Regions from separate parts of the Homo sapiens genome. Here region 2 is linked to region 1. Evidence: fine-mapped expression QTL. A gene starts in region 1. The other region holds a variant in brackets. All regions are shown on one strand. Distances are between the middles of the regions. Region 1 holds the start of GPR158 (G protein-coupled receptor 158). Region 2 overlaps GPR158 (G protein-coupled receptor 158).

Evidence for each region. PIP is the estimated chance that this variant, and not a neighbour inherited with it, causes the effect. A credible set is the group of variants that fine-mapping cannot tell apart.
Region 2: its variant is the best candidate, but not a certain one, in a credible set for the expression of GPR158 in lung (TOPMed, PIP 0.54).

Annotation. Positions count from the first base shown.
Region 1 is chr10:25,172,264-25,176,655 of GRCh38, forward strand. It overlaps GPR158 (G protein-coupled receptor 158), which reads left to right and starts at 2,738. Exons shown (of 11, transcript NM_020752.3): 1 at 2,738-4,059. The coding sequence starts at 3,158. GPR158-AS1 (GPR158 antisense RNA 1) reads right to left here and starts at 4,013. Exons shown (of 2, transcript NR_027333.2): 1 at 3,413-4,013.
Region 2 is chr10:25,194,371-25,198,762 of GRCh38, forward strand. All of the region lies in intron 1 of GPR158 (G protein-coupled receptor 158), which reads left to right. Among named protein-coding and RNA genes, the nearest start is that of GPR158-AS1, 20 kb to the left of the region's middle. The variant A/G (reference allele first, on the strand shown) is at 2,194.

The DNA of each region.
Region 1 (4,392 bases):
TTTCTTAGCACTCTGGACCGCAATGGACTGTCTTCTAGAGCTTGTACTCTAGGGTAGCCTCTGGCCACGGGTGGCTAGTCAGCACTTGAAATGTGGCTAGTGTGAAGTGCCTTGTGCTGTGAGTGTAAAATACAAATCAGATTTTGAAGACTTAGTGTAAAAAGTGTAAAATATATCATTAATACTTTTACATTGTTTACTTATTGAAATGATAAAAATTTGGATATATTGGGTTACATAAAATTTACTATTAAAATTAATTTCAGTCTTTTTCTTTTTACTATCTTAATATGCTATTTGAACATTTGAAATTATTTATAAGGATCCTACTTCTGGTTCACATTGTATTTCTATTGGGCAGTGCTGTTCTAGATCCAACTAGCTCATCCCAGCTGTTTGGCAATGTAGGTTGAAGGGGATCCATTGAAGGGAATACTATAATTGCAAGAGTCTCTCATATTCTGCATCTTTCTCATTAGATATGCACTTGGGAAAGGATTGGTGCCCTGGGAGACTAGCTCAGGTGCCTCCCCCGTACAACCTCAATGTGAAATCCCGAGGCCCACACACAGTTTGTGTCCCAAGACACAGAAATTTTAAATGTCTTGCCAGTGGTCATATATCTTCCTTTAAAATAAAGCTAGAACCAGAATCCAGGTCTTTTGATTGTGCTTAGTTCATTTGATTACTTACAGAAGGATCTACGAATACAATTATGTCTTCTTTTAAGTTAGATACTAGAGGATTTTAAAGAATTGTTAATAAGTTATATAGGTTTTCTAAAAGGATCAATGAATGAGGAAATTATACTTCGGACTTTAGATGGTTAAGTAAATGGAATACCATAGTTTATACTTTGATACATTAAATAAGCAGAAACTCTTTCTGTTATTATTGCCACCCATACTGTGGCAGAGCACTAAACCGGGATGACCTTTACTTAGCATAGGAGCATACATTGCAAAGAAAAATTTAAACAAAAAGTCGGAAATGAACATGAAATCTACTTGTAAGTAAATATAAATCTAATAACCACTCTTTGCATAACTATAAAAACTCATTTGGAGACCAACCACTGCGGTTTGAAAAACTGGTTGCTGTGTCTTCTTCCAAAAACCCTCATCACTGGTGTGTCAGGCAGACTTCTCTTCTTGGGTGAGGAGATTGATTTTTAAGTTAGCTTCATCATCATGATCTTCCCATTCATTCACTAATTTAGCAACTATTTAGCCAGAGCCTACTATGTGCCAGGTAGTGTTCTGGGTGCTCAAGGTACCTCAGTGACCAATGCAGACAAAGATTTTTGCTCTTTTGGAGCTTACATTCCAGTCCTTAAGTATTTTCTCAATAGGAAGGATGACATGAAATAGTACAGTGAATCTAAGCAGTGCCTGCTTAGAATGCCATGAGGGACATTTTTGTTAGTTGGGAATTAAAGTAAGTTGGATATTTTCTATTTGTGTCTTTCTTGGGGAATTTGAAAATAGAGGTGCATATGGAAAGTGGAGCTAGCTGTGCAAAACACTACTTTTCTGGTACCAGTCTACTTTTGGAGTGTCAGAAGACACTTAAATTCTCTAATAAGCGTCAAAACATCAATTAGATTGTGTTAAGAAATTTACCAATAATTTGGGGGACTTGGCATACTTGCTCAGTTCTTCTTTCTTCTGCTGGGATATCCCAACCTTTAGCTAAATAGAAGTCTTAGTTCTTATCTCTCAATTCCAGGAACTCCCAGTCAGGATGATTTCCCTTCTCACTCAACACAGGCTCCTTCTCATTCTCCCAGAGCTCATGAGTCCTCCCCCTTGCTCTCTCCCTTACACATCTTTACTTGCATACATTTTTACACGTTCCCCTCCATTCTGGCCCCCAAGCAGAGATTCCTTAAATATGACTTTTTTTTCTCTCCTTAAAGCACAGCTGGTAGATTTCTCCATTACTCCCTCAGCTAAGATGAGCCTAGACAAGTATGTTTTAATCATTTCTTTAACTGACAACAAGAAAGATGATTTGATAATTTGCCTAAAATGAGCAGATGCTCAGGAGGACACGTCTCCATCCTATGTCCCTTCTGTCTAATTTCACCTAGAAATGAAAACTACTCCCTTCTCCCTCTTTTCCAGGCAAAAGGCTGATTTAACTAAGCATGCAAGACGCCAACACCCTCCCCCTCAGTACGTCCAAGTTTCCTTCGCTCTGAGCCACCGAATCTCTGCTTCTCCCCCCTCTGCCGCCCACCCTACGCCACCCACGCAGGTTTCCGAGTCATCCGGAACGCGAGTGGGTGCGAGGACTCGGCAGGCTGCCTCCCGCGCCCCCGCCGCCCGCGGGCCGCCTCGGGTTCAGCACTGGACAGCTCCCTCCCCGGCCCCACAAATGGCAGTCGGCTGATTGACAGAGGAGCCGACCAAACAGGGAACAAGACGACTTGCAGCCGCCCTACAAGGGTTTGGTTGCGGCCAAGCTGCCTCTTTAAACTGGCTTTCCTCCCCCGAGGAGGGAGCAGGGAGAGAGGGTGGAGTGTGGTTTGCGGCCAAACCTAAAGGCTGCAATTAACCAGCCGCCCGGCCTTCGCTACTCCGGACAGACGAACGTCTTAAAGGACGTCTTCGCTCCTCGGGAGTCGCGGCTGCGCTCGCGGTGCGGGTCTGGGCGCGCGCCCCGCGCCTCCGGGCGAAGCGGTCGAGGAGGAGCCAGTGCCGGGAGGCGGGAACGACCTGCGGCGGGTGAGACTATGGAGCAGCGTCTTCGGCGGCCGCGGCGGCAGCAGCAGCAGCAGCTTCTGAACGCGCCTCAATGAGAGCGGCGGTGGCGGCAGCCGGGCCGAGAGACGGACTCGGGCTGACTCCAGCCGCTGGGAGCGCGAGGCCATGTAACCCGCTCGGCTCCAGGCTGCGAGGTGCGTAATCCCCAGCCGGCCCCTCGCGCAGCGGGCACGGCCAGCGCTGCCACAGGTGACTTGATTTCTGCGACGGTAGCTTAGCCACCCGGGGCCAATCTCGAAACATTCTTATTTTCAAGTCCTTTGGACTGGGTGCCATCTGGAGAAGGGGGAAGACTCCTCGAAAAAGTCTGACTGTTGAGAAACTGACGATCCAAATTTAAAAAGTGATTCCCCCCCCTCCCGTTCCCTCCTCTTCTCTCTGGGAGGCAGATGGGAGCCATGGCTTACCCCTTACTCCTCTGCCTCCTGCTTGCTCAGCTGGGATTGGGAGCTGTTGGCGCCAGCCGCGACCCCCAAGGACGGCCGGATTCCCCTCGAGAGAGGACCCCGAAGGGGAAGCCGCACGCCCAGCAGCCGGGTCGAGCCTCTGCCTCGGACTCCTCGGCTCCCTGGAGCCGCTCCACCGATGGCACCATCTTGGCGCAGAAACTCGCCGAGGAGGTGCCCATGGACGTGGCCTCTTACCTCTACACCGGGGACTCCCACCAGCTGAAGCGAGCCAACTGCTCCGGCCGCTACGAGTTGGCGGGCCTGCCGGGGAAGTGGCCAGCCCTGGCCAGCGCGCACCCCTCCTTGCACCGGGCGCTGGACACACTGACACACGCCACCAACTTCCTCAACGTGATGCTGCAGAGCAATAAGTCGCGGGAGCAGAACTTGCAGGACGACCTGGATTGGTACCAGGCGCTGGTGTGGAGCCTTCTGGAGGGCGAGCCCAGCATCTCCCGGGCGGCCATCACCTTCAGCACCGATTCGCTGTCCGCACCGGCCCCACAGGTCTTCCTCCAGGCCACGCGCGAGGAGAGCCGCATCCTGCTCCAAGACCTGTCCTCCTCCGCACCCCACCTGGCCAACGCCACTCTGGAGACCGAGTGGTTCCACGGCCTCCGGCGCAAGTGGAGGCCCCACTTACACCGCCGCGGCCCCAATCAGGGGCCCCGGGGCCTGGGCCACAGCTGGCGGCGCAAGGACGGGCTCGGCGGGGACAAGAGCCACTTCAAGTGGTCTCCGCCTTATCTGGAGTGCGAGAACGGGAGTTACAAGCCCGGGTGGCTGGTTACTCTTTCCTCTGCCATCTACGGGTTGCAGCCTAACCTGGTCCCGGAATTCAGGTAGGGAGGGCCGGGGGGCAGGGGGGAAGGCAAAAGCGAAGCTTTCCTTCCGGTCTTGTGGGTGGGTGCACGTGTGAGGAAGGAACCCTTGGCTGTGACGCGAACGCTTCTCACCCTCAGAGTAGAGACCCGGGCTGAGGGACACCCCACGCGGGCGCGGGTGCTTGGGGGCAAGAAGCGCCCCACGCCCGTCAGCTTCCGGCGCTCGGCGAAAGCCATTCATTCTCTCGGACCAGTTTCCCCGCACTGGGCGAGGGACAGGCAGCCCTTGGCAGGACGGAGACACCCCCGCTGCTCTGTGCTTCCCTCCAATTGTCCGGAGAGCAGGGAGGG
Region 2 (4,392 bases), 22 kb after region 1:
TCTACTAAAAATACAAAAATTAGCCAAGCGTGGTGGTGCATGCCTGTAGTCCTAGCTGCTCAGGAGGCTGAGGCTGGACGATTGCTTCAGCCCAGGAAGCGGAGGTTGCAGTGAGCCAAGATCGCACCACAGCACTCTAGCCTGGGTGACAGAGCAAGACTTCATCTCAAAAAATATATAAATAAATAAAGAATGGAAGAGCCAGAAGTGAGACGACTTGGAGGAGTTAGAGGAGGCCAATTCTGCATGACAGGAGAAGGAAGTATAGGCAGACTTATCCCTAGTGAAGAGTAGTCACAATCGAAAACTGGCAGTATGAGTTTTAGGAAATAAAATCATCATTAGCTTCTCCAATATGAAAAATGTGGAATTTGGTTTCGTTATATTCCTTTCTTTCTTTACCCTCTCCATTGTTTTATTATAGTTATAATTTTTCTGTTGGTTATTTTGATTTTTGCATCTATAAATTTTAGATACCTTTTATTCTTTTCTTCTTTTGCCCTCCTACCTCTGTTGACTATTCTAATATTTTTGGATAATTAAAGATAATAACATTTGTATTCTGTTACTAGAGTAAAAGAATTCTCTGCTTTGTCCATTAATTTCCTCTAAGAATTGACAGATAAATAATCGGATCCTGCCATTTTAAGAATCTTCCAAATTTCAAAGTCCAGATCTTTTTCTAGATCACTTGCTTAAAACCATGCTACGTTTTATTTGTGCATATCTCCATCAAGATTTTTCCCCACCCATTGGAGTTGCTAATTGCCTTTTTATTATGTTAAAAAAAAAAACCCAAGGAGTCATTTTATTTCTAAGATCAACTTTTTCTTTCTTTCTTTCTTTTTTTTTTGAGACGGAATCTCACTCTGTCACCCAGGCTGGAGTGCAGTGGCATGATCTTGGCTCACTGCAACCTCCTCCTCCTGGGTTCAAGCAAGTCTCATGCCTCAGCCTCCCAAGTAGATGGGACTACAGGCATGCACCACCACACTGGGCTAAATTTTTGTATTTTTGTAGAGTCGGGGTTTCATCATATTGGCCAGGCTGGCCTTGAACTCCTGACCTCAGGTGATCCACCCACCTTGGCTTCCCAAAGTGCTGGGATTACAGCCATAAGCCACCACACCCCGCCAGCCCAACTTCTTAAATCAATCATTCCATTTGTTAAAGAAAATTCATATTTTTATTGAAGACATTCCTGGAGTCCTGTGATTTGTATAAGTCGCTTTAGGTCTTTTGCAGAACAACTATCATGGACATCTTTTCAAATTATTGACCTTTTGGATTAGTTCAACAACTGTGTGTTGGATGCAAGCCTTCTTATTTCTAAAATTCTTCCTCTTCTTTTTCTTTTTTTCACCCTATGGAACACTCAAACACATTTTTCAGACAGGATATGTAGAATTTATAATTTCTAAGTCTTCCCGTGCCAGAAAATGTCTTCTAACTGTTAGTCAGAATACAGAAGTATAGGTTCAAAGTCATTTTGCCCTCAGAATTTTAAACACATTGTTATATTGTTTTTAGCATTCATTGTTGCTTATGAAAACTTTGATGTAACCTGATTTATTATACCTTTGTAGGTAATATTTTCTCCTTATGGAAACTTTTAATATCTTTTCTTTTTCCTTGGGGTTCTGAATATTCATGATGATGTGCTTAGATGTGATTCATTTTATTGATTACACTTGCCATTTAGTGGGCCCTTTTAGACTTTTTCACTCAGAAACTTTCTTTTATGATTACATAAATTATTTTCTGCTATCCAGTTTCTCTTTCTGTAACTCCTACAGTTGAATATTTGACTTTCTGGATAGATTTCTATATTTCTTAACTTTTCTTTCATTTTCTCCTTTAAAAAAAAAACTTCTGAGAGATTTTATTCTTTTCTTTTTTTGTTATTTTGAAATAGTTTTCCTTTGGCAATTTCTCTTAATGTTCATGAACCCTTTTTTTGCTCTCGGATTATTTTTCATAGTTGTCTGTTCATTTTCTTAAATCTCTTTGAGGATCTTAATTTAAATATCTATAAAGTCTCTTTTGTTCCCTGAATTATTGTTGTTCCAACTTCAGTTGTTTTGCTTGTTTATGTCTGTTCTCCTTTATGCCACCAGTTCTGCTAAATATGATCCTTAGTTGGTCATTATTTTTATGATTGAAGGACTAGGTTAAATTGTAAAGTTAGGTGGG[A/G]CGTATCTTGTGACACATGTGCAGGCCTTGTTCCTCAACAGATCTCTGCCTTGACTATTGGGCTTCTTTCCCCTTAGGAAGCTAGACAAAGAAGCTGGCAGTCTCTGCCCCACCCTGGACCTTTACTCTAGGAGAACTAATAACCATTCTAGAAACTTTCACTCTTCCCAGAAATGTCTTTCAATCTCTGCAGAAGAGTTCTTGATTTTTTGCTTGGGAAAAAATGCCATCACTGTGCTGTAGGGAGGGGATGTGGCAACTCATGTATCTGTTTAGAAGTAAGTCCTTCATTTAATCACCTTGATGCCTGCTTTAGTTTCCACTCACACTCCTGATGCCTGCCAACTATGGTCTTAACACAAGCTGTCCTGCATGAGCATTTTCGACCTGTGCTCCAGGCTTCTGCTAAGCATAGCCTTAGCTGCCACCCCTCCCTGGCTTATCATCACGATCCTGGAGAATTCTTTCAAATCTCTGGTCAGGTACTTCTCCTCACTGTACTTGCTCCCTCTTGTACGTACTTCCTGTCATTACAGTTGGATGTGGAGGGAGGAGGTAGAGAAACATATGATCTGTTCACTATTTTAAACAAGAACGTGAACCTAGGCCCTCTGACCAGTCTTCTTACCCTTATACTTAGGATATGAATATCACATTCGCCCTTTTACTTATTACCTGTGTCTTTAGGTAGAAGCCATCTCACCTCTTTGTGTCCCAAATTTCTTACTATTATTTAGGGAGAATAATACTGACCATATGTAGTTGTAATATAAATTGAGGAGAATAGTATCAGTCATATACAGTTTCAATGAGGATGTTTTAAGGGTGTCTAGCATAATGTCTATTAGGATCTAGAAAAAAATCTAAAATTTAAAAGTCTGTGTAAATTATCAGCTTTGTAATTTGACTTTAAGATCCGTATGAATAAGATCCAGCATAAAAAAGAGTATTTAAATTTAAGAAGTTATTAACAAAGAAGATATATCTTTGCTTGAAAATTAAAGTAAAATCTTAACACAATTGGCATGTTTAATTAAATCACTAGATCTCAAGGTATGAGACAGCCATTGTATATTTTAAGGCAGATTACAGTGTTCACATACATTTTCTTTCTCTGACAGAACATGCTTTGTTCTTATTTCTTCTTCCCTGGCAATGCAAAAAAATATAACTTTGGACATGTTATGAAACTTTAATGAATCTAATTTTCTTCATCTATAAAGTGAGAAAAGTGTTTCCTCCTCTCTCTCTCCTAGGACTCTTTGAATTAAACAAGTCAATAATAGAAGTGACCTCCTTGCACTGGGTTCCCTGACAAGAAATTGTCTCATCCTATTCAGAAATGGTCATATCCAAAGAGGTTCTTTAAAGAACCCTGTGGATGTGTTTGATAAAATTGCAGCTAAACATGATTATAGTGAAGGAAAACCACAAAAATGAGATGTTGGTCTGCTACCTTTGCAAAAAACAGCAGACTCAAGATATATTTTTCAGGGGAACAGTCACCTATTATCAGATTTTGAACCTTAGCAATTTTAAGAGATGTGCTGCATTTAACCTGCAGAAGCCCCAAAACACAAGAATTGTATTTGTGGGTAGAGGATAGATATTCCATGCTGATTGAGCTTACTTCATTATATATTTATTGACTTTATCAAACTTATATTTTGCAACATAAAACATACAGACCTTCCCAAGGAAGCCTTGACCTGATTGCCAGAAAGACTTCCAAGAACAAGAAGCCAGACAGATGGAAGACGTGAATACTATGTAAAGTTTTGGCAAGCTTCTCTGGACATGTCTGCTGCAAAGTGGTGTGGGGGAGGAGAACATTTCCTTGCTTTCAGACTTGCTGTAAAATTCTCTTATATGTTTTAGAGGGGATCAGGTCTTACAATTTACATTATCACAGGACTATCAGGTCATGATTGAAATTATGGATAGTTACATTCTTGGAAAATAGATTTAAATTGTTTTCTGGCAATATTTTGGGAAGATAACTATTATTAATGATGCTAGAGAAAAAAGACAGCTACAAATGCCTCTTAAATTTGGCCTTCTAAATAAGCAGAAAGCTATTTGATAATAGTATTCTTGTATAACTAATGCTAATTGTTTTGTAGAATTTAAGAGGCAAAAATAAATTTATTATCTTAAGGCTGCGCAATGGGTTACCATACAGCAATGAAGGAAAAATGC